4 linked regions of the Homo sapiens genome follow. The protein of the gene in region 1 purifies or fractionates together with the protein of each later gene. This does not show direct contact. Each region holds a gene or a part of one and is shown in the gene's direction. Other genes may lie near its edges.

Evidence for each region.
Region 2: the proteins of OR13J1 (region 1) and ATP2B3 purify together in Homo sapiens (affinity purification with mass spectrometry; one large-scale study listed by BioGRID and IntAct). This does not show direct contact.
Region 3: the proteins of OR13J1 (region 1) and GOLGA5 purify together in Homo sapiens (affinity purification with mass spectrometry; one large-scale study listed by BioGRID and IntAct). This does not show direct contact.
Region 4: the proteins of OR13J1 (region 1) and SARAF purify together in Homo sapiens (affinity purification with mass spectrometry; one large-scale study listed by BioGRID and IntAct). This does not show direct contact.

Annotation. Positions count from the first base shown.
Region 1 is NC_000009.12:35,866,368-35,873,992, reverse strand, and holds OR13J1 (olfactory receptor 13J1), read left to right. Parts: upstream 1-3,591; coding exon 3,592-4,530; downstream 4,531-7,625. UniProt on the Homo sapiens protein: Odorant receptor.
Region 2 is NC_000023.11:153,558,828-153,564,525, forward strand, and holds part of ATP2B3 (plasma membrane calcium-transporting ATPase 3), read left to right. Parts: intron 1-901; coding exon 902-1,115; intron 1,116-1,848; coding exon 1,849-2,060; intron 2,061-3,307; coding exon 3,308-3,415; intron 3,416-5,698. UniProt on the Homo sapiens protein: ATP-driven Ca(2+) ion pump involved in the maintenance of basal intracellular Ca(2+) levels at the presynaptic terminals. Uses ATP as an energy source to transport cytosolic Ca(2+) ions across the plasma membrane to the extracellular compartment.
Region 3 is NC_000014.9:92,835,805-92,839,304, forward strand, and holds part of GOLGA5 (golgin subfamily A member 5), read left to right. Parts: intron 1-1,581; coding exon 1,582-1,645; intron 1,646-3,500. UniProt on the Homo sapiens protein: Involved in maintaining Golgi structure. Stimulates the formation of Golgi stacks and ribbons. Involved in intra-Golgi retrograde transport.
Region 4 is NC_000008.11:30,070,549-30,078,746, reverse strand, and holds part of SARAF (store-operated calcium entry-associated regulatory factor isoform 1 precursor), read left to right. Parts: intron 1-4,691; coding exon 4,692-4,870; intron 4,871-8,198. UniProt on the Homo sapiens protein: Negative regulator of store-operated Ca(2+) entry (SOCE) involved in protecting cells from Ca(2+) overfilling.

The DNA of each region.
Region 1 (7,625 bases):
ACCCCATCTCAAAGAAAAAAAATTAAAATTAAAATAGGCTAAAGAGCCTATTTTTTTCTCCAAAGAAGATATACAAATACCCAATGAGCACTTGAAAATATGTTCAATGTCATTAGCCATTAGAGAAATGCAAATCAAAATCACAATTAGATACCACTTCACTCTTACTATGATGGTTATATATAAATATAAATTTTTTTTTTGAGACAGGGTCTCACTCTGTCACCCAGGCTGGAGTAGGGTGGTATGAACATGGCTCACAGCAGCCCTCAACCTTCTGGGCTCAAGCTATTCTCCTGCCTCAATCTCCCAAGTAGCGGAGACTACAGGCACATGCCACCATGCCCGGCTAATTTTTGTATTTTTTGTAGAGACGAGGTTTCACCATGTTGCCCGGGCTGGTCTCGAACTCCTGGTCTCAAGTGATCTGCCCACCTCGGCCTCCCAAAGTGCTGGGATTACAGGCGTGAGCCACCACACCCAACCAAGATGGCTATAATTTAAAAAGCAGATAATAACAATTGTTGGTGAGGATGTGGAGAAATTGAAACCCTCACATATTGGGGAAATGTAAAATGGGAAAGTAAAATGATACTTTCCATTTTGGAAACTGGCAGTTCCCCAAAAATATACACATAGAGTTTCTATATGACCTAGAAACTCCACTCCTAAGAAAATATCCAAGAAAAATGAAAATATACATCCACACAAAAACTTGTATGCAAATGTTCATAGCAGCACTATTCGTAACAGTCAAAAAGTGGAATCAACCCAAATGTCTATCAACTGATGAATGGGCACATAAAATGTGGTATATCCATACAACTGAATATTAATTAGCAATAAAAAGAAAGTAAGTCCTGATACATGCTACAATATAGATGAACCTTGAAAACATTAAGCTAAGTAAGAGAAACCAGTCACAAAGGGAAACATATTTTATAATTTCATTTATGTAAAATGTCCAGAATAGGCAGCTCAAAAGAGACAAAAAGTAGATTAATGGTTTCCTAAGACTGGAGGAGGTTGAGGGGAAAAGGGGAGTGATGGCTAAAGGGTATGGGCTTCCTTTGGAAGTGATAAACATGTTCTAAAATCAACTGTGGTGATACTCAAAACTATTGCATTGTACACTTTAAATTCACCCGTTGTACACTTTAAACTCACCCATTTAAAGTGTACAATGCAATAGTTTTGTATTTGAATTGTACATTTTAAATGGGTGAATTTAAATGGGCGGCTGCATGGTGTTTGAATTATAGCTCAATAAAGATGCTATTTTTAAAAAGAACTAACCATTGATTCACACAACATGGATGACTCTCAAAATAATCACGCTGAGTGAAAGAAGCCAGATTTTAAAAAGAGTACATTCTGCATAATTCCCTTTATGTAAAATGCTAGAAAATGAAAGTAATCTACAGTTACAGAGAGCAAATCAGTGGCTGCCTGGTTGGGGAAGAAAGGAATGGATTACCAAGGGGCATGAGAAAAATTGTGGGTATATTAGATAAGTTCATTATCTTGATTGTGGTCATGGTTTCATGACTGTATACATTAAAACTAATCAAATTATATGATTTAAATATAGTTGTACATCAACCATCCTTCAATAAAGCTGCAACAAAAAAGCATACTAAAAAGTCACAAGACCTATTTCCATGTATAGATATACATATGCAAATGGCCAGAAAAGTATCTGGATAGATATACACAAAACTAATAACAATAGTTACTTTTGGAAAAGTGGGAGAGTGGGAAGGGTGGGTGAGGCTGGGTATGGAAGAGTGAGGGAAGGGTGAGGCTGGGTATGGGAGAGTGGGAAGGGTGGGTGAGGCTGGGTATGGGAGAGTGGGGGGAGGGTGAGTCTGGGTATGGGAGAGTGGGAAGGGTGGGTGAGGCTGGGTATGGAAGAGTCAGGGGAGGGGGAGGCTGGGTATGGGAGGGTGGGGGAGGACAAGGATGGGTATGGGAGAGTGGGAGGGGTGGGTGAGGCTGGGTACGGAAGAGTGGGGGGACGGTGAGGCTGGGTATGGAAGACTTGGGGGTCCTCTCTGCCTAGGAAGGGTTTGCACTCAGCAGCCTGGGAGCACACCTGTCATCAGTGCTCCCTCACATCTGGCACCACCTGACATGTAGCAGGTCCTCAGTTACTTCTAGGTTCTGGGATGAGTAAGTGAGGGTGGAATAAAAGACGGAAATGGTCTCCTGCAAGGAAGGCACTGAGAGGAACTGTGCTCCACCCAGGCCCAGGATTTGGCATCGTGTCCCATGGGATTAATGACACCGTGCCAGATACCCTGGAACACTAAGGAGAGGTGACTCATGCTCTTTTGCTGGTGAGAGGATTGTGGCAGCACCTGGGGCACTGATATCCATCTAGAATGGTAAAAGAACAAGCATTGTTTGAAACCTAATAGAAGCATACACCTGCTCTGAGCATGGTATAGGGGTCACACTGTTGGGAGGGCTGGATTCTAGCTTCACCTCACCAGAGACCTGTTGTGTGACCTCAGCATCCCCATCTATACAATGGGAGATCCAACAAGTTGGCCTCTGGTCATGTTCCATGCTAATACCCTAGGAGTTCATGAAGTCAAAGCAGCCCTCGCTCTGGCCCACAGAACATAGGGGTTTGGAGCTGGGCCAAAAGCTCCATCAGATTTTAGCTGGGAAACCCACAGGAAGGCAGATTGTGAAGGTCCAATCCACACAGGGTAGCTAATGAAACAGGCCCTGGGCAGGGGACAGGGGAACATGCCCAGCGATAGGCTTCAAGGTCAGCAGCCCTCCAACACACAGCACGGTGTATGCTTTGTTCATGGATACTAGAGTAGGCCTGAAGAGACAGGTCAGACCACTGCAGGCCGAGGACATTCCAGACAGAAGGAATAGCAAATGCGATGGCTCAGAGGCTTCCTTAAAGCCAGGAGAATCTCCACCTGCTCAGAGACCACCTAGCCCACTAGTTCCTCAAAGTGTGGTACCTACATCAGCAGCAGAAGCATCGCCCAGACGCACCGAGTCAGAAACTGGGTTTGGGGCCCAACAATCTGTTTTAACAAACTTTCCAGGTGATTCTGGTGCATGTTAAAGTTTGAGAACTGTTGATCTAGCCTACTGTTTCCCAGACTATGCTCATAGAACACTTATCTGCAGTAGGTTAATGGGTTTTCTGTAAAAGGGGATCCATGATCAAATAAGTTTGGGGTACAGATGTTCTACATTGCTTTGCAGGAGTCATAGATCACATTAGCGTAGTAAACGCTCTGAGAAGTCCTGCAGTAAAGAGCTTTATTTTTTATTAATCCAATGTTGTCTCAAATTGATTTTTCAGATTGCTTACTAATGTTCTCATTAACATTCTCTCAGGGAATGCTGATCTAAATCAATGCTCATTTTTCACATGGATAAACTGAGGCCTAGAGAGGATAAAGGGATTGCCCGACGTCACAGACAGTGAGTGTGGCAGTGCTGGAAAAGATCCTGACAGTCCACCTCGTCCCAGAAAGGGCTCTGTGAGCTTCCCCGCACCCTGTACCCTCTCTCCTTCCATCCCAGCTGTGGACCATCTCTTCAGAACTCTGCAGCATGGAGCCGCTCAACAGAACAGAGGTGTCCGAGTTCTTTCTGAAAGGATTTTCTGGCTACCCAGCCCTGGAGCATCTGCTCTTCCCTCTGTGCTCAGCCATGTACCTGGTGACCCTCCTGGGGAACACAGCCATCATGGCGGTGAGCGTGCTAGATATCCACCTGCACACGCCCGTGTACTTCTTCCTGGGCAACCTCTCTACCCTGGACATCTGCTACACGCCCACCTTTGTGCCTCTGATGCTGGTCCACCTCCTGTCATCCCGGAAGACCATCTCCTTTGCTGTCTGTGCCATCCAGATGTGTCTGAGCCTGTCCACGGGCTCCACGGAGTGCCTGCTACTGGCCATCACGGCCTATGACCGCTACCTGGCCATCTGCCAGCCACTCAGGTACCACGTGCTCATGAGCCACCGGCTCTGCGTGCTGCTGATGGGAGCTGCCTGGGTCCTCTGCCTCCTCAAGTCGGTGACTGAGATGGTCATCTCCATGAGGCTGCCCTTCTGTGGCCACCACGTGGTCAGTCACTTCACCTGCAAGATCCTGGCAGTGCTGAAGCTGGCATGCGGCAACACGTCGGTCAGCGAAGACTTCCTGCTGGCGGGCTCCATCCTGCTGCTGCCTGTACCCCTGGCATTCATCTGCCTGTCCTACTTGCTCATCCTGGCCACCATCCTGAGGGTGCCCTCGGCCGCCAGGTGCTGCAAAGCCTTCTCCACCTGCTTGGCACACCTGGCTGTAGTGCTGCTTTTCTACGGCACCATCATCTTCATGTACTTGAAGCCCAAGAGTAAGGAAGCCCACATCTCTGATGAGGTCTTCACAGTCCTCTATGCCATGGTCACGACCATGCTGAACCCCACCATCTACAGCCTGAGGAACAAGGAGGTGAAGGAGGCCGCCAGGAAGGTGTGGGGCAGGAGTCGGGCCTCCAGGTGAGGGAGGGCGGGGCTCTGTACAGACGCAGGTCTCAGGTTAGTAGCTGAGGCCATCGTATGCCAATGCCAGTGAAGACATGGCAGGGCTGGGGCTACAGGTCTGGTATCTTCATCCCAGCAAGGCAGCACCAAGTCCCGCTGATCCTGCCACAGAACAGCCCCCAAATCACCCTCTGCTCTCAGCATCACCCTGGCCTTCACACCAGCCTCCTGGCTGGTCCCAAGACTTCAGTCCTGTTCCTCCCTCCAATCTCTCCTTCATGGGGCATCTTTTTGAAATGCACATGTGATTGCATCACTCTTCTCACTGAAATCCCTAGGTGGCTCCCCACTGTTCTCAGAACAAAGTGGAAGCTTTTCAGTGGGGCATTTGAGGCCCTCACAAGCTGGCCCTGCCTGACTGGCTCCCCAGCCTTCCTCCCCTCCCACCCCATCTCCCTCCTCACAGCCACACACACCAGCCAGTTGTGGCCCCCACATGCCCTGCACCACCCAGCTCTGTGCTCTCCTTGTTTCTCCCCACGAGGCAGCACCCCCTCCCCTATCCCCAGCACACTTCTCCATATGTAAAAGGACTGACTGCCTGACCCTTCAGGCCCAGCTCAAATGCCACCTCCACCAGGAAGCCACCCCACCTTGCTCCTCTTGCTGTGCCCCTCTGTGTTTTCAGCATTACTCCAAGAGCAGGGAGTGTCAGATTCTACTCTCTCCCAAGGTCCAGCCTTGCCCAACTCTAGGCCCTGCACAAGTTTCTTAAATAGAGATATTAACATGTCAATGTAGGGGTGACAATGGCAGAGCCTAGAGTTCTTCCCAAAACTGAGCAGAGCTGAGACGGAGTCCACAGATGACGAGAATGGCCCAGCTTCCCTGGTAGGTGACAGTAGAGGCAGCAATGAGGCCTGTATTAGTCAGGGTTCTCTTAGAGGGACAGAACTAATAGGATAGAGGAGTTTATTAAGTATTAACTTACACGATCACAAGGTTCCACAATAGGCTGAGGAGCAAGGAGAACCAGTCCGAGTCCCCAGACTGAAGAACTTGGAGTCCATTGTTCAAGGGACGGAAACATCCAGCATGGGAGAAAGATGTAGGCTCGGAGGCTAGGCCCGTCTCTCCTTTTCACGTTTTTCTGCCTGCTTTATATTCACTGGAAACTGATTAGATCATGCCCACCAGATTAGGGTGGATCTGCCTTCCCCAGCCCACTGACTCAAATGTGAATCTCTTTTGGCAACACCCACACAGAACACACCCAGGATTCATACTTTGTATCCCACGATCCAAAGAAGTTGACACTCAGTATTAACCATCACAAGGCCCAAAGTCCAAGATTCCCAGACCTGTCAGGCCCTGGGACACCAATCATCCAGCCCAAAGCCTGAAGCCACCCCATTCCTCCCACCTCACCCCGCCCAGCAGCAACAGCAGCAGCAGCAGCTTCCAGTGCTCCCTTTCTTGGGATCCAGGCCTCACCTGGCTTGAGGAAGCTTGTTTTACCCATCCTCACCTCATGCCCTGGGACCCTGCCATAGTTGCCCCTGCCTGGTGCTCAGCCTCTTCCAGCTTTTCTTTCTGATAACTCAGTGCACAGGCAGTGGACACTGACCTAGATTCACGGAGCATTTCCATTCCCTGCCTTGCCCTGGCCTCCATGGTACCATCTGTACGATGGGAGCACTGGGCTTGCCCTGCAAGCAGCAGTCCACCTTTCCTGCCCCCGGCTACAGGTAAGCACAGCCCCTGCATGAGGCCTGAATTCCCCTCCCAGGGCTTTCTCCCTGCTTCCTCTGCTGGCCAGAACAGAGGCACAGAGAAGCATGGCTAGAGGAGTGAGAGATACCCAAGCCTCTCTGACCACGCCTGAGAGAAGGCTGCCAGTAGCCATGCCAGTGGCCATGCCATTCTGCTGGGCCATGGATACATCACAGAGGTTTGGGTTTTATTCTGTGGGCTCTGGGGGTTTACAATCAGATTGACTTTTAGCAAGGTCACTGATTAGATACCATTCTCTCTCTTGTTTAACACAATGTCCACTGTTAGGTACCATGTGGTGAAGTAGGCAGTGTCATACACTGCTGGTGGAAATGGGGATAATTTAATATGAACTTCCTAGAAAGTAAGTTGGAAATATGAATCAAGGGCCTTCAAAACTTCCAGACCCCTTGACCCAACACCTCTACTTCTAGGAATCCAGTCTAAGTAAATAATAAAGGGCACAAAGATTTGGACATAAGGATATTAATAACAGCATTATTTGTAGTAACAAAAAAACTGTAATAATCTTAATGTTCAACCATAGAAGAATATTTAAACAAATCCCGGTGGAGTCCAATGACAGTATGTGATGCAGCCGTTAAGAATCTGTTTTTTTTTTTTTTTTTTCAAGACAGGGTCTCACTCTGTTACCCAGGCTGGAATGTAGTGGTACAATCTTGGCTCACCGCAGCCTCAACTTCCTGGGCCCAAGCAATTCTCCCACCTCAGCCGTCTGAGGAGCTGGGACTACATGCATGTGCCACCACGTCCAGCTAATTTATTTTTAATAGAGACGAGGTCTCGCTATGTTGCCCAGGCTGGTCTTGAACTCCTGGGCTCAACCGATCCTCCCAACTCGGTCTCCCAAAGTGCTGGGATTACAGGCATGAGCCACCATGCCTGGCCAGGAATCTTATTTTTTGAAGGGTATATGATAATGGGCAATACTCGTAAAGTAACTAGAAAAAAAAAAAGCAGAACACATAACATTGTATTTTAGTATGATCTCAATTTTAACTTTTTAAGTATTTTTCTTACAGATCTATGAATAAGTCAGTATCTAGGAAATACTGGAAAACGATGACCAAATATTAACTAACAGTTGTTTCCTTTGGGTGACAGGGTTACAGATAAGTACTGTTTTTTAAATTATTATTTTCAATATTATCCAATATTTCTATGATGACCATGACTTTGAACTTAAAAAATAATGGTATGTGGAAGACCACCTTGCCCGCAGTAGACGACAGATGAGAAAGGCTTCCTCCTGAGGGCAGGGAAGGGAGGAAGCTGCTGTAGTCACCCAGGCCCTCAGTGAGGCCTGAGCTGGCTGGGCAG
Region 2 (5,698 bases), on another chromosome or scaffold:
CATGGCTCGTTCCCACTTTTTGGCTCTTGTGAATGGTGCTGCCAGGAGCATCTGTGTATGAGTTTCTGCGTGGGCTATGCGTCCCATGGGAACCCTTTCTCAACAGTCCCATTTTCCCCATTGGTGAGTGTCCAGATTTTCTTCACCCCGCCTTAGAAAGGGGGTGTTTAAATTGCCTGCTGATCAACTTGGTCTTTTCAAAACAATTTTTTAAATTGAGATAAAAAATCACATAACAAACTTCAACAGAACCATTTTAACCTTTTGAAAGTACATAACTCCGAGGTTTATATCCCTCCACTGTCTATTCCCAGAACATTCTCATCACCCCAAAAGGACACCCAGACCCCGTGAGCAGTCACTCTCTACTCCCCAAACCCCAGCCCCTGGCACCCACTCATCTGCTTTCTCTCTCTATGGATTTGTCAGTTCTGGAAGTTTCCTATGAATGGAATCAGACAGTACGTGGCCTTGTGTGTCTGGCTTCTGTGAGGCTGATTTTTAACGAACAACTCAGAGGAGCTGAGAAGGAAGGTCCAGTTCAGAGTTTCTGCCTCCTCCTGCCCCTGAGGTGCAGGAGACAAGGAGAGCAGCCCTCACTCTGTTGCCCCAAATGGCAGACCCCATCGTCGGGCTGTTTTGTGGTCTGGGGTTTTTCACCTCCTGCGAGGGATTTGGAGCACACCTGCTGCCAGGTGAGAGAAGGGAGGCGGGCACGTGACAGCCCAAAGAAAACGCCCCACTAGCGTAAAGGCGATGTAGGGATGGAGATGTCTGTTTTCATGGGCATGAAATCCTGGTGATGTGGACCCCATGAGGAGCCCCCAGGAGCTACTGGGTTTCCACCCCCAACCTTCCCGGGCAGGCGGCCCATGGAAAGGTGACTGCCTCCTCTCCATAGGACTCTCCTCTCAAAGCCGTGCAGATGTTGTGGGTGAACTTGATCATGGACACATTTGCCTCTCTGGCCCTGGCGACGGAGCCACCCACAGAGTCGCTGCTGCTGCGGAAGCCGTACGGCCGCGACAAGCCCCTCATCTCCCGCACCATGATGAAGAACATTCTGGGCCACGCCGTGTACCAGCTCGCCATCATCTTCACCCTGCTGTTTGTCGGTAGGCTGGCCAGGGGCACCCGGGAGGACTTCAGGACACTGTTGCCACCACCTCGGGCTCAGATTCTGTCTGGTGTGTCTCCACCTGTGTCTCCGCACCCAGTACGGGGTGGGACGCTGCACTTCCTGACTGGACAGCACACAGGGGAAGGAGCAGATGGGCCAGGCTAGCAACCCTGCAGCCAGGCCTGCTGGTGGCCTACAGCTCTTTCGCAAGCCTCTCCTCCCAGGCCGCTGAGCAGCTGAGAAACAGTTCATGTCTTGACATCCTGCCCACGGCTGTGTAGCTGTGTAGAGTAGGCAGCTTCTACCCAGCCCCAGAGTGGCCACGGTAACCCTAGGAACAGAACAGCCCACATTTACCCTGTGAAGATTGCTCCTGTGGAGTGACTGGGGTGCCGTGCTGGAAGCTGTGAGGTGGGTGGGGGGTGACCGCAAGAGAGAGGAAGAGGAGGAGGGCGTCCGAGGAAAGCCAGCCTTAAGAACTTCCCTTCTTAATCTCTTCCTTCCTGCCCTCAGGCTCAGGGTCTGGCCCCTGGCCCAGAGGGGTCTCAGGACTCTGGTTGGTTGAGCCTGGGGTGGGTGTGGCTGCCTTGGGCCTTGGCCGTGAGCTGGAAGTGGCCATCCCCTGGGACAAGGGACCCATCTCGGGAGCTACACACCGAAGTCTCGCTCCTGAGTAATGCGTCATGCGCTGAGATGACTGTGCCTGAGTGGGGAATGTTGCTTTCCAGGGGAGCTCTTCTTCGACATCGACAGCGGGAGGAATGCGCCCCTGCACTCGCCACCCTCAGAGCACTACACCATCATCTTCAACACGTTCGTCATGATGCAGCTCTTTAACGAGATCAACGCCCGCAAGATCCACGGCGAGAGGAACGTGTTCGACGGCATCTTCAGCAACCCCATCTTCTGCACCATCGTTTTGGGCACTTTCGGGATTCAGGTAGGAGGGGCGGCTCCACTCTTGGCCTCTGCCACTTGCAAAAAGTGGAGGTGGTGGGCTTCAAGACCCCTCGTCCACCCCTAGTACTGGCCTCCCCACCTCCACTCCCAGAAGGAGCCCCACCCCACCTGGCTTTCCTGTAGCCCCCGTCCTCTCTGCATGTCGGAGAGGGCCTTCTTCATCTTCCAAACATTGCCGGCCTTGCCCTGGGTGAGCGCGCTGGCTTCCAGAAGGGTTTCGTGAGCCCTCATCGGAACGAAGTTTTCTCACAGATGCTGGAAGGAGTCCTCCCTGGCTCCCTCTAGGTCTGCCATTCCCATTTCTAGCACTTAATTCCTTGGCATGAGGCTGCCATAACTCCAGAAGTTTCTTTTGGAGATGACCTCTGTGCCCAGTGCTGACACACTAACCTCTGCTTCCCACAGTGCTGTGGACAGGCTGGTCAGCCCCACTGTCTAGGAGGGGCTAAGTGTTCTAAAATATAGTGTATTTGTAGAAAAATTGAGGTATAGTAAGGCCAAAAGGTCAAGAGACAGTTGCCACTGAAAGACAGTTTATGACTCAGAGACCCCAAGAGGAGGACACATGCCACACCATAGGGGCCCACATGGGAGAGCGCCAGGCAGGAGGTGGGGTGTGAGAGCTGTGGACAAGAGCCTTTGCTGTGGTTCCCTCGGGGAGGAGCAGGTGAGGCAGGGCTGGTAGGCTCAGGACTGGCTAGGTTGCGTCATTGCAGCGGTTCCAGGGCATACGGGTGCTCCCTGGCTGTCTGGTACCTGGTCCTGGGTAATGAGTGCAAGGGGATAGTGGCCCGGAATGTGACAGTCCAACAGAGGACGGGGTCAGTTTGCATTTGGACAGCTTGCCCCTGCAAATTGGATGCCTCCCGAGGAGGCAGGAGGCCAAGACAAGGTGACCTCGGCAGGTTCTAGGGTCCTCCAGAATGAGGCATGTCCAGCGTGCCCGCAGGGTGGGTGTCACAGCCTCCGTCTTGCTGAAAATAGGAGCATGGTCAGTGGAGCTGGGCCCCACTCCGAGGCTGGAGTCAGTAGGTGCCTGGCACCCAGGGGCGCTGGGGGCCATGCACTGCTCTGTCATCACGCCCCCGGCCTTGTGGTCCTCTCGCAAGGAGCAGCCCGTGCAACTGGGGGAACCAACCAGGGTGGCTGGGTCTTCAAGGGGTTGGAGGACAAGGGTGGCTCAGGAGCCGCGGCTGGACCTGCCTCTCTCCCACTTGCCCTTCGCAGATTGTCATCGTCCAGTTTGGCGGGAAGCCCTTCAGCTGCTCCCCACTATCCACAGAACAGTGGCTCTGGTGCCTGTTTGTTGGTGTTGGGGAGCTGGTCTGGGGACAGGTGAGTGACAGCCCTGCCCCTCATTTCAGACTGCCCTGCAGACAGCTTCTGTGATGGGCCCACTTGCCCTAACCCTGCTTCAGAGCCTTGGGGTCCTCACCCTAGGAAGCACACTGAGGGCTCAGGCCTGTGACACACCAGGACCCAGGGACAGGACGCAAGGGAAGGTGTCAGCAAAAGAATGCAAAGGAACATGGCTGGGATGTGACAGGGCCCAGGAAAACTGCCCGCAGCTCCCCTTTCTATGATAAGAGCCAAAAATTGCCCCTTCCAATTGGGTGGGTAGCTTGGGAAATCCCCACATATTTTAAATCAATCAAACAGCACCCTGATCAATAATCCATGGGGCGAAAAGAAAGTCTCCAGAGAAATTAGGAAATATTTTGACCTGATGGAAAGGACAGAGAGTCCCACATCGAGCTCTGTGGGCTGCAGCTGAAGCCGCACACTGGCAGGTTTCTAGGACCCCACAATTAGATCAGGAAGAAACAGCCTGGGTATTTAGGATCCGCTTATCTCTGTCTTCATCAGCTCCGACTGCCATAGCAAAATACCATAGACTGGGAGGCTTAGACAACAGACACTTACTTTCTCGAAGTCCCGGAGGCTGGATATCCAAGGCCAGGGAGCCAGCGGGGCCAGTTCCTGGTGAGGGCTCCTTCCTGGCTTGCAGACAGCCGCCTCCTCACTCTGTGCTCACATGGTGGACAGAGGGAGCAAGGTCTCTGGTGTTTCCTCTCCTAGGAGCATTAATCCAGTAGGATCAGGGCCCCACCTTGGTGACCTCATTTAACCTTGATCACTTCCTTACTCCAAATCCAGCCACACTGGGCACTAGGACTTCAACACATGAACTGGAGAGCACAGTTCAGTCCATAGCATTCTGGCTTTTCCTTTTTTTTTTTTTTTTTTTTTTTGAGACAGGGTCTTGTTCTGTTGCCCAATGTGGAGTGCAGTGGTACAATCACAGCTCACTGTAGCCTCGAACTCCCAGGCTCAAGTGATCCTCCTATCTCAGCCTCCCAAGCAGCTGGGACCACAGGCACATGCCACCACACCAGGCTAAGTTTTGTATTTTTTGTAGAGATGTGTTGTGCCATGTTGCCCAGGCTGGTCTTGAACTCCTGAACTCAAGTGATCTGCCTGCCTCAGCCTCCCAAAGTGCTGGGATTACAGGCGGGAGCCACCATGCTCGGCCTGGCTTTTGTTTCTTGATCTCTGTGCCGGCCACAGGGGCTGCTGCAGCTGCTGCAGATGCCAGCCTTCTTGCTGGCCCCAGCATTAGTGTCCTCGGGGACAGCCCACCCAGTTCCTGTTTCATTTTCAGAATTCTCCTTTCCCTCTGCTACTGCACCTCACCTCCGAATCACACTTGAACCTGGTTGCTCCATGGAGTCCCTTCACTTCCCGAAACCTGGACTCTAACCACAGCCCAGAGGGGTGCCAGGCCCTCTTCTTGCTCTTCAAGCTCCCAGGCCACTGGCCTTCTGGTCCCCCCAGGAATGTGGCACCAGCCTGTAGCTCGGCCTCTCAGGGCTACTGGGTTGTCCTTTTCATTTTTAACCTTGTTCAGTTACAAAGATAAAACATGTTCAAGAGAAAAACGAAAAGAAGGGAATCTCTGTGAACCAGTCCTCAAGTCCCCTCCTGGCCATGTTCGACAAATACACTGGCATAGACACACAAGACAGACGAGACGTCTTGCTCTAGAACTCCAGATGCCCATCATCCCTTTCTGTGGCTTCCCCTGCGTCCTTCTAGACTGTTCCCCCCACTTCCCAGTGGCCTACAATATGCGAAGCCATGCCCTCTCTTTACTCCTGCCAGGCTCCTTATCCAGTCACCCTTTCCAGCTGTCACCCTCCTTGTCACCTCCCACCCTCTCTAGCCCCCAATGCACAGGTCTTCTCTAGGCTGGTGTTCCTCCAGGAGATGCCCTCTCCAGGAGAGACTAGGCCAGAGCTCCAGCTGTCCTCTCCCAGGGGAGTTGCGCAAACAGCGCCTGTGTCTCCCAGCAACGGTGTGGAGCGACATGCAGGGAGTATTGTCAACCAGGGCAGCTCACCCAGGCCCCGGTGTCCAGGGCTTTTCTTGCGGTGGTTCACAGAGCCATGCTGTGGTCACGTGGCTGGCCTCCATCTCCAGCCCTCTGGAGGTCCAGCTGTTAGTGTAGCCTACGGGGCACGGTCCCCAGCCCCCTGCCCCACTGAGCCATGCTGCTCTCAAGCAGGATGTTCCAGGGGCTTAGCGATCCCTCCCAGGAGCCCTTGCTGCACCGCGTTC
Region 3 (3,500 bases), on another chromosome or scaffold:
ACTTTTATTTATTTCACAGTTATATTACACTTTCATGAAGTGACTTCTTTCATGATATTTGAAATATCATGTCAGAAATTATGTCAAGAGGTCTGCCAATGCCTACATTTTATTGAAGATGATTAACCCTGACTGTATCTCTTTTTTCTATAATAAATTCTATTTTTAAAAACTTCATTAAATTTTATTGAGAAAGCCTCTACTTCATGTAAAAGTATCCATTTGAATGTTTTATCCCAGAATTTTATCATGCTATTAGAATAAAAGATGCTACTATATATAGCTGAACAGCACTCATTGTATTATATATTTTATATAAATAACAAAATTTATGTTTATGTATATGTAAATTTTTTATATTAGCAGACATCTGCCTTATCAAAAAAATATTTTAATAGTTTACATATAGCATTGATAAGGTTCTTGTCTAAATAACCTACTGTACCCTTTTTCTTTGTAGTGTTTATAATGAAAAGTTTTAATGAATTGTGGCATAATAATCTTTTTGTACCTTTTTGTGTCAGAATTGAGCTATTGTATTAAAAATAAGAATGATATACCAAGATGACTGAAGCCTCAGAACTAGGATGCCATAGCCATTATGTCCAAATTAAGCACATCTAGTTCAACTATTCATTTATTCAACATACGTAGTTGTTAGAGAACCTAAGTGCAAGACATTGTGCTAGTGGCAATGAAAGAAGCAGAAAGGGGTATTGCTTCTGCATGTATCTGTCTTGATAGGGAAAAAAATGTTGCAGAGGCATAATAGATCTGGACATCATATTGCTTCCACACTATTTATTCAAATGCATGAGTTTATAGCTTTGTACCTTTTAGAAGCATGTATCTATACAAAAGCTTCTAGATTAGCTATTTGCAGGTTAATGCCAACCAGACTCTTTTTTTCCCCAGTCACATAGTTGACACCCACCTAATCTTTCGTAACTTCTGTAATTCCACTAAAAAAAGATTTAGGCCGGGCACGGTGGCTCACACCTGTAATCCCAGCACTTTGGGGAGGCTGAGGCAGGCGGATCACCTGAGGTCAGGAGTTTGAAATCAGCCTGGCCAACATGGCGAAACCCCGTCTCTACTAAAAATACAAAAAAATTAGCCAGGCGTGGTGGTAGTGGCGCACCTGTAATCCCAGCTACTCGGGAGGCTGAAGCTGGAGAATTGCTTGAACCCAGGAAGCAGAGGTTGCCGTGGGCAGAGATCGCGCCATTGCACTCCAGCCTGGGCGACAGGAGAGAAACTCCGTCTCAAAAAAAAAAAAAATTAGGGATCAAGTTTGCCTCCTACAGTTGTGGCTGTAGAATTAAGAGAAATACCTGTGCTGAAGTTTAACAGCCAAGCCCCAAATAATGATAAAAGCATTTATTTACCTCTATGACATTTTTATATTATTATTTCAAGTAATCATTTAACAGTCTGCTATAAAAATTGTTCTTCTGTGGTAGCCACATAAATAGTTTAAATGAGTTAAATTTATCAGCATCATTAGATATTACCACAGGAAGATTTGTTTTGACTGTGACTCTTCTCTCTCCTCTCCCCCTCACACCTGTGTCTGCACAGTATTCGCCTGGGAATTTTTCTCCGAAGATACCCCATAGCGCGAGTTTTTGTAATTATATATATGGTAAGTAAATTTATTTGAAAAAACAATGATGCACTTGATTTTTAACTAGTTTTTTTTTTTGTTTGTTTGTTTGTTTTGGCTACAGATCTTATTGATATTTTAGCAATCAATCAATTTTTTTTTGTTTTTTTTGAAACAGGGTCTGGCTCTTTTGCTGAGGCTGGAGTTCAGTGGTGCAGTCTTGGCTCACTGCAGCCTCTACCTCCCAGGCTCAAGCCATCCTCCCACCTTTGCCTCCCAAGTAGCTGGGACTACAGGCGTGCACCACCATGCCCAGCTAATATTTGTATTTTTTGTAGAGACAGGGTTTCACCATGTTGCCCAGGATAGTCTCAAACTTCTGGGCTCGAGTGATCCTCCCACCTTGGCCTCTCAGAGTGCTGGGATTTCAGGAATGCGCCAACGCACCCAGCCAGCAGACAGTTTGGAAAGAGAGAACTCAGTTTTAGTAATTAAGATTTCTTTTGGTAGAGTATAAATTGACAATTCATTATGTCTAGAATATAAATTCCTCAAAGGCTTTTCCTACAAATAAAATTAAACGCAGTCTAATAGTTACCTCCATTTTAAAGCCCTTCTAATGATAAAAACAATTTGAATACAAAACAATTTTTTATCTTGACGTTGTAAAGTTGCTTTAATTGTTTTCATGTGTTTTGCTTTATTTTCTAAAAGAGCCTCAAGATTGATTTACTTTCTCCCAGATTTCTTACCTCTAGTAAAATGGTTACGGTAGTTTGGGATGCCATTTCGCATGTACCGTGTGCCTAAAAAGGCTGCTAACTATTTGGAGTGGGTATGTCTAAAAGTAGTTGGGTTGAATGAAAATGGGCTGTTTTCTTGAAAAGAAATTTCTTTAAAAAGAAATTTCTCTGTGATCCACTAGAGGGAAGAGTTATTCCTTTAAATACAGGTTTTGTGTTGTTTTTTTTTTCTGAGACTGAGTCTCGCTCTGTCACCCAGGCTGGAGTGCAGTGGCATGATCTTGGCTCACTGCATTCTCCACCTCCCAGGTTCAAGCGATTCTCCTGCCTCAGCCTGCCGAGTACCTGGGGCTACAGGCGCACGCCACTGCACCTAGCGAATTTTTCTGTGTTTGGGAGATGGGTTTTCACTATGTTGGCCAAGCTGGTCTCAAACTCCTGACCTTGAGTAATCCGCCCTCTTCGGCCTCCCAAAGTGCTGGGATTACAGGTGTGAGCCACTGCACCTGGCATAATAACAAGTTTTTAAGAAGGAAAGCGTGGGGAGTACAAAAAAAAATTGAATGGCATCAGAAAGCATTCAGAATATGCCCCAGAGGGGTTGATTTCCCAGGTGTTAGTGATGATGAGTAACACGGGCACTGTCATGAGATGGTGCCCATGAGATGTGATTTCTGGCACACGACAAAGTGGTGAGGCACTTAGTGATGGAATCTCGTATCATTTCGGTACTACCATGAGGGAATTAAATTTGTCACTATGAATCGTGTTCTGGGCCCTACATCAGCCTCTGAAACGACACATTATTTCTGTCTAGAATATTTTCCCATCTCTTCTTCACCGAACATTGGTTAAACTCTCTTTCAGAATACCAACTATAACTGTTCTAAAAGTGTTTTCTAACCAACTTCATGTGTATCTAGCAGTTTTAATCACTCTGCATTATAATCAACTGATTATTTTGCATACACGTGCATATTGTGAATGTGTTGAAGTTCAGAGCTGACTCCTCTCAACTGAATTCTGTAGGAGTAGCAAGTCTTTATTACCTTCCATTGCACTGAGCTCATTTAGTTGTTTCATTCATTCCTTCATGTGTCCCATAGGGGATACAGAGGCAGGTAAGACACAGTGCCTGCCCTCAGTGTACA
Region 4 (8,198 bases), on another chromosome or scaffold:
AGTATATTTAGGTCTCTCTCTCTATATATATTTTTTATATAGATAGGGTATTGACCTTAAGTTTATTAGATTGATTAGATTCATATTAAATACTTGTGGGAAATACATCATAGGAGATGTTGTAACATCAGTTTGTTCCACCATTAGCAAAGCGATGGTTGGCAAACCCAGCCAGACTTTTTCCTTTAGAGTTTTTGAATATATTTCTCCATTTTCTTTTTCTATCCTGTTGAGATACCTGAAGCTTTTCTAAGTCTTATCTTTTCTATATGGCTTGTTTTCTCCCTATTCTTCTGGCAATTTGTAGAATCTTTTTTTGTCTTCAGTGTTCTAAAATTTACTTTTCGTGTGCCTTTGTGTGGTCTGTTTCTCAGGCCTGGGTATTTGTTGGGCCCTTTCAGTATGACAACTCAAGTCCTTCAGTGTGGGAACTTTTCTTGAATTACAGCCTGGAGTTTGTCTAATCAGATTCCCTTGTTCATTCTTTCAGAAGCCCTTGTTGGATTTTTGGACTTTCTGAACTGGTCCTGAACTGGTAATTTTCTTTCTTTCTTTTTTTTTTTTTTCCTCCTACTGTCTTTTTTCTTTCTTTCTTTTTTTTTTTTTTGAGACGGAGTCTAGCTCTGTCCCCCAGGCTGGAGTGCAGTGGCACCATCTCGGCTCGCTGCAACCTCTGCTTCCCGGGTTCAAGCGATTCTCCTGTCTCATCTTCCTGAGTAGCTGGGATTACAGGTGCCCGCCACCATGCCTGGCTAATTTTTGTATTTTTAGTAGAGACGGGGTTTCACCATATTTGCCAGACTGGTCTCGAACTCCTGACCTTGTGATCTGCCTGCCTCGGCCACCCAAAGTGCTGGGATTACACACGTGAGCCACTGTGCCCAGCCTTTCTCTCCTACTTTCTATCTTTTTGCTCTACTTTCTTTTTTCTTTTTCCTTTTTTTTTCAGATGGAGCCTTGCTCTATCGCCAGGCTGGAGTGCAGTGGCACAATCTTGGCTCACTGCAACCTCTGCTTCCTGGGTTTAAGCAATTCTCCTGCCTCAGCCCCCCGAGTAGCTGGGACTACAGGCACGCGCCACCATCCCCAGCTAATTTTTGTATTTTTAGTAGAGCCGGGGTTTCACCGTGTTCGCCAGGATGGTCTTGATCTCTTGACCTCGTGATCCACCTGCCTCGGCCTCCCAAAGTGCTAGGATTACAGGCATGAGCCACCACGCCCGGCCTCTTTTTGCTCTACTTTCTAGAAGATTTTCTTTTAACAGTTCTGTCGTATGTATGTATTTATTTATTTATGTTTTGTGACAGGGTCTCACTCTATCACCCAGGCTGGAGTGCATGGCTCACTGCAGCCTCGACCTCCCCAGGCTCAGGTGATTCTCCCACCTCAGCCTTCTAAGTAGCTGGGACTGCAGGTGTGTGCCACCATACCTGGCTAATGTTATAATTTTTTTTGTAGAGACAGGGTTTTGCCATGTTGCTTAGGCTGGTCTTAAACTCTTGGGCTCAAGTGATCTGCTTGCCTTGGCCTCCCAAAGTGCTGGGATTACAGGCATGAGCCACTGCACCTGGCAGTTCTGTTGTTTTTAATCTTGGCTGTCCTGTTTTTAATTTCCAAAAGCTCTTGTTTTTTCTCTGAGTATCCCTTTTAAAAATGATTGTTTTATTAACGCAGTCTTTTTCTCTTATCTCTCTGAGGATATTACAGTGTTTTTAAAAAAGTTTTCTTCTTGTGCGTCATCTCTTTTTTCCTCCTGCTTCCTTTTGTTGTTGTTTTGTCCTGGTTGCTGTATTTCATGTTAGGGGCTGTTTTGTCTGTTTAATGTTACTGTAACACAATACCACAGACTGGGAAATTTATTAAAAAACTGAATTCATTTCTCACAGTTCTGGAGGCTGAGAAGTTCAATATTAAGGTGCTAGCATCTGGTGAGGGCCTTCTTGCTGTGTCATCCCATGGTGGAAGGCAGAAGGGAGAGAGTGAGAGAGGGGAAAGGGGCCTAACTCATCCTTTTATCAGGAGTCCACTCCTGCGATAACTAACCCAGTCCTGCAAGAACAGCATTAATCTATTCATGAGGGCAGAGCCCTCTTAAAGATTCCATCTTTCAACACTGTTGCATTGGGGATTAAGTTTCCAACATGTGAACTTTGGGGGACACATTCAAACCATAGCAGGGACTTTCCTCATATTTTTAGTAATCCTTGGCTCCCTGCTCATGGTTAATTCTGGGGAACCAAAAAGCTCATTGGAAGCTATCAGTGTGCAGTTGCACTTTTGATTTTGAACTTCACAACAGGGTGACCTAGGTTGCTCTTTTTTGGAGGAAGTTCCTGATGTCAGTGTATTTAGGTACTTCTTCTTGGTTAGATTACCAAGGGAATAGTCATCCAGTCTCCCACAGAGGACAAGGGGATGGCTGTTAGCATTTTGTGCACCATGTGGGGAAGGAGAACTGTGCTTTCAGCAGTCAGAGTGCACACAGTCACTTGGGTTCCCTGTTTGGTTGTTTTTGTCCCCATGCCCTTTACTATGCCAGATGGTCCCCAATGCAAATCCCTTCAGTTTTATCCTCTCCAGAGAATACATCTCCAGACAGTTTCCTTAGTGGGGAAGAGGGAGTTAGAACAGTGTGGAGTTGGGGAGAGGATCTGGGAATATGGCTTCCTCTCAAGTAGCTTTCACCCTGTAGTGTGTATTCCAGGCATCTCCCATTCCAGAGCTGCCATTTCCCGTTTTTTGTTTTTTTTTTTTTGTTTTTTTTTAGGGATTCTGTTATGTACATCAGGTTGATTCTCAGTTTCCCCCTTTGCTGTTCTGGCATTTGTCTTTCACTTAGGTCTAGTCATCTACCACTAGTCCATTTACTTTCTCCTTCCAAAATTCTGCTGTCATCTCCTCTTTCGTTTTACCTGACCACAGTCATTCACATCATCAAAACAATGTATTTATTATAGTTTTAGTAGAATTTTGGGAGGCTGCAAATTCTGCTAATCTGACAGGTTGAATATAGGGAATTGGGTACTCACAAAATGGTAGAAAGCGATGCCTATTACATCTGCCACATTGAAAAATAGATTGTTCATGTCAAGCTTCATGACAGCCAGGAAGCTGATTAGAGGATACTATCAGTTTGAAAACTCATGGTCTCCATGCCTGTGTTTACTAGCTGAAGGACAGAGCACTGTATAAGTCTAGGGTCTGCTTTCCAGATTTTGCTCGAGTCCCTCTGGTTGGCAGAACTGAAATTGCTTTTGGCAACTATAGCTGCAAGAGGTTTTGGGATTCCTTTTGCTTTGCAGGAAGGCATACCTGTTTGAGGGTGAAGTGGATGTTGACTGAGCCAATCCACAGCATCTTCCATCAATAATCCACAACATGATAAATAGGAAGACTTTGTCCTTATTTTCCAATAATGCATAGAAATTCATTTTTTTTTTTTTTTTGAGATGGAGTTTCATTCTTGTTGCCTAGGCTGGAGTGCAATGGTGTGATCTTGGCTCACTGCAACCTCCTCCTCCCAGGTTCAAGCGATTCTCCTGCCTCACCCTCCCAAGTAGCTGGGATTACAGGCATGTGCCACCACTCCCGGCTAATTTTGTATATTTAGTAGAGATGGGGTTTCGCCGTGTTGGCTAGGCTGGTCTCGAACTCCTGAGCTCAGGTGATCCACGTGCCTCGGCCTCCCAAAGTGCTGGGATTACAGGTGTGAGCCACCACACCCAACCTAAAAATTTCATTTTTGCACATGAATGCCAGACATAATTTTATTGTTTTGACTCCTCCTTTCAAAGTCTCTTGTCAGTATGTTTTAAATTTTTTAGTTTGTGAAATAGTTTAAATAGTTTTGATTTTTAAAATTATGAAATACCTAAAGTATTTAAACATACAGAAGTGTACAATGAACCTACACATAGTCATCACCCAGTTTTATTGAATCTTTATATTTTGCCATATTTGCTACAAATCCCCCACTCCCAGTAATAAAACATTAGGAATAGAGCTAAAATCTCTTTTCTTTCTCTCTCCCTAGACTAGATACTTATTTGAATTTGGTGTTAAATCCTTCCCATACATGTTTTCATGTTGTTATTATATACATATATAGACATTAACAGTATGTAGTACTGTTTTGCCTTTTTTAAAGGTTTATGTAAAGCTGTCATACAAAACATTCTGCAACTTGTATTTTGTTTAAAATGTTTTTGCCATCTATCTAGTTTGATACATGAATTCTAGTTCACTCATTTTAACTGCTATGTAATATTCCACTGTAATAGGTCAGAATGTGTTAATTTCTTCACCTGTTGATGGACATTTAAAGCATTAAATGTGCTTCAGGAACATGCTTATATTCTTGCCATTTTAATTAACCACTATTATTATTACACAGTAGTACAATGTTTCAGGTTAATGAACTTTTTGTTCTTTTGATTTAGCAAAAATGATGTACAACTTGTGCTGTAGAAGCATCTGGCCTGAAATGCAGGGAGATCTTAAAAGTGTGACCTGAATTTTGTTCAGAAGGCCTGAATGTTGTTGGGATAGTTTTGAGAAATAGATTCATCCTCTCTTAGCCATCCTCAGAAGGCAAGAAAGGCATTTCCTATGACGAGAGTTTCGTTAGGATGAACCTTTCTTTCTCTGACACGATACTTACTTTGTGTTCCTCTGTTTTCTTGCTGTTTCAGACAGAATGTTGCTGCGGGATGTAAAAGCTCTTACCCTCCACTATGACCGCTATACCACCTCCCGCAGGCTGGATCCCATCCCACAGTTGAAATGTGTTGGAGGCACAGCTGGTTGTGATTCTTATACCCCAAAAGTCATACAGTGTCAGAACAAAGGCTGGGATGGGTATGATGTACAGGTAATATCCACTACAGTAATGGCAGTCTAAATGGGGTTTTTATTCAGTAAATTGTTTATTGGGACATTATTCAGTCTTTTGAGGGTGCACCTACGGAAATCTCAGATCAGCCTAAAATATGTAAGTAAATCAATCACTCTTCCTGTGGAAGAAATGGCCTCCAAAAGAAATGAACTGATTTTAAAGCCTGAAAATACTCATTTTAGTTTTTGTATCGTGACCTCCTTCTAAGATATTTGTAAATTTTCACAACTTTTTATATACTTGAGGGTGAGGGATAGGGGATATCTTATGGTTGTCATTTTCCTGTCGTTCCTCAAAGAATACCAACCTACCCTTAAGACAAAGTTAAGATAATTAGGAATTATAGATCGTAAATAGTAGGGGTTCATATATCTCTATTGTGCTTCTAGCACTTGATTTTAAAATTGTCTTAGAACTGAGGGTGGTTACTTTTGAAAGGAAGCATTTCGGCAGGTTTCATTGATTGCCTTTGGGACGCTGGTGTTTTGTATACGAGCAGAGCATCTCCTTGAAGTTCCAAAACTGAATATGCTTTAGAGATAGATTTTATTAAATGAATTCAGTTTAAATCACTAGTTACATATTTCTACTTTGTATTCTGACTGCTTTCAAAATTGATTTAAGACGACTGGTCACAAGGCAAGAAACTTATGTTGACGATTTCCCCTCTCCATCAGAATGATATTCTTGTTTGATACAACCTTTATGCGTGGTCTTTGCAATTCAGAGAGGAAGTTGATGTGTACTGGGTGATACTTACTTCACAATATTTTCCCCCAGTACTGCTAAGTTGAATCATAGAATTCTCTGGGTTATAGCAGAAGTCTCACTCCACTTTACTTATGACTTTTAGAGTCTTGATGGGAAAAAAAGGCAGTAATGGTGATGTCATTCATTAAGCATGTATTAATTGCAATATACAAAAATGAATAAGGTAGAATGAAGAAACTGTCTTACTAGTAGAAGAGGTAAGACAGGCACTCAGATTACATGTAGGTCCCAACACAACATTATAAAGTCACGTCTGGTTGGAGCCATTGGGACTTAAAGGATGAGACATTTGTGCTGTGTTAGGAAGGAATGATAACATTTTTAGAGAGGAAAGGCTAGAGAAGGGAATAGCATGAGCAAAGGAGTGTTGAGCATATCATACATTGGCTTATGTTTAGTAGCAGGAGAGAGGCCATTTAGTAGCAGGACAGAAACTCCTTCTATTCCAAGAGTTGAAATTTAAATACAGTACTTAGAAGCTACTTGTAAGTACGCATGATTAAGGAAGTGGTAGTTAACATGAAATACCAATACAAGTTTAGCTTGTTTTATTTACCTAAGTCAACAAACCTATGAATCTTCCTCCAAATAAAATTATTTTAAAAACAGTGTAGTAACAGCAACAAAAGAAAAACTGCATCTTATCCAAATGAAAAACTTTTGACTATCAAAGGACATCATCAAGAAAGTGAAAAGACAACCTACAGAATGGGAGGAAGCTTAGCAAATCATAATTGGTGAGGGACTTGTATTTAGAATATAAAATAACTCTTACAACTCAGTAAGAAAACAACCAAGGTAAAAATGGCAGAGCATCTGAATAGACATTTCTACAAGGAAGATATATAAGTAATAAATAAGCACATGAAAAGTGTTCCTTATTATTAGCCATCAGAGAAATGCAAATCAAAGCCACAGTAAGATACCACTTCACACTCAGTAGGAAGGCTATAATAAAAAAGATAACAAGGCTGGTGAGGATGTCGAGAAATTGGAACCCTCATACACTGCTGTTGGGAATGTGAAATGGTCCAGCTGCTTTGGAAAATTGGCAGTTCCTCAAAAGTTTAAATGTAGAGTTACCATGTATGCCTCAGTCATTCCACTCCAAGGTATATACACCCAAGAGAATTGAAAACACATGTCCACACAAAAACTTGCATACAAATATACATAGCAGCATTATTCATAATAGCCAAAAAGTAGAAACAATTCAAATGTCCATTACTAATGAACGATAAATAAAAGTGGTATATCCATGCAAAGAAATATTATTTAGCCATAAAAAAGTGAAATAGTAATACATGCTACAACGTGGATGAATCTTGAAAATGTTATGCTAAGTGAAAGAAGCCAGTCACAAAAGACCACATATTGTATTATTACATTCCTGTGAACTGTCCATTTAGGGAAATCCATATAGACAGAAAGTTGGTTGGGAGGTGTGCGGCGGGAGAATGGAGAGTGACTGCTAATGGGCACAATATTTCTTTGGGGTGACGAAAATATTCTAAAATTGATTGTGGTGACAGTAGCACAACTGTGAATATACTAAAACCATTGAAATGGGTGAATTGTATGGTATGTGTGAATTATATTTCAATAAGGCTATTATAAATGAAGTAAAATAGTGTGAACTTTGAAAGAGGAAAATAATTTGTACAAAAATTTGCAGAAGGGCAACAGAACCAATTAAATCTACTTTAGCTTGTGTCTTTTTTCATTTTTTTTGAGACGGAGTCTCCCTCTGTCACCCAGTCTGGAGTACAGTGCAGTGACATGATCTTGGCTCACTGCAACCTCTGCCTCTGGGTTCAAGTCGTTCTCCTGCCTCAGCCTCTATTTTTGAAGTAGCTGGGATTACAGGCGCCTGCCACCATGCCCACCTCATTTTTGTATTTTTCGTAGAGATGGGGTTTTGCCATTTTGGCCAGGCTGTTCTTGAACTCCTGACCTCAGGTGATCCGCCCACCTTGGCCTCCCAAAGTGCTGGGATTACAAGCATGAACCACCGCGCCTGGCCTTTAGCTTGTATCTTAAGAGTTAAAGAAGCATATTGCTTTTTCCACCACAAAATATAGAATCTAGACCAAACTTGGGCATATATTTTTTTATAAGGTGGACATTTTTGGGGCTAGCCTGGGTTCTTTTTGCATTTTTCTAAATATCTTTAAAAAATACAAGAGAATTACATAGAATTGGACCTTGGAAAGTTAGTCCATGGTTTTATAAAATTTGTGTAGAAAAGTTTTTTTCTCTGAAGGTTATGTAATATCTCTGTTGCTTTGTGTAGCTACCAGACATTCATATATGATGCTGTTTTGAGCCTTAACATCTTTTAAGAAATCTGGATTTTTAAAGAAAGCATCTTGAACAACAGTGGCAAAAAGTTGACATTTTGGCAGTTTGCTTAAATTTTATAAATTGTAGAATACTTAATATGTTCAGATGGATATATAACATGTATATGTAAAGAATAGTAATAAAACGAATACTCATATACGCAATATCCAGCATAAGAAGTAGAACACAG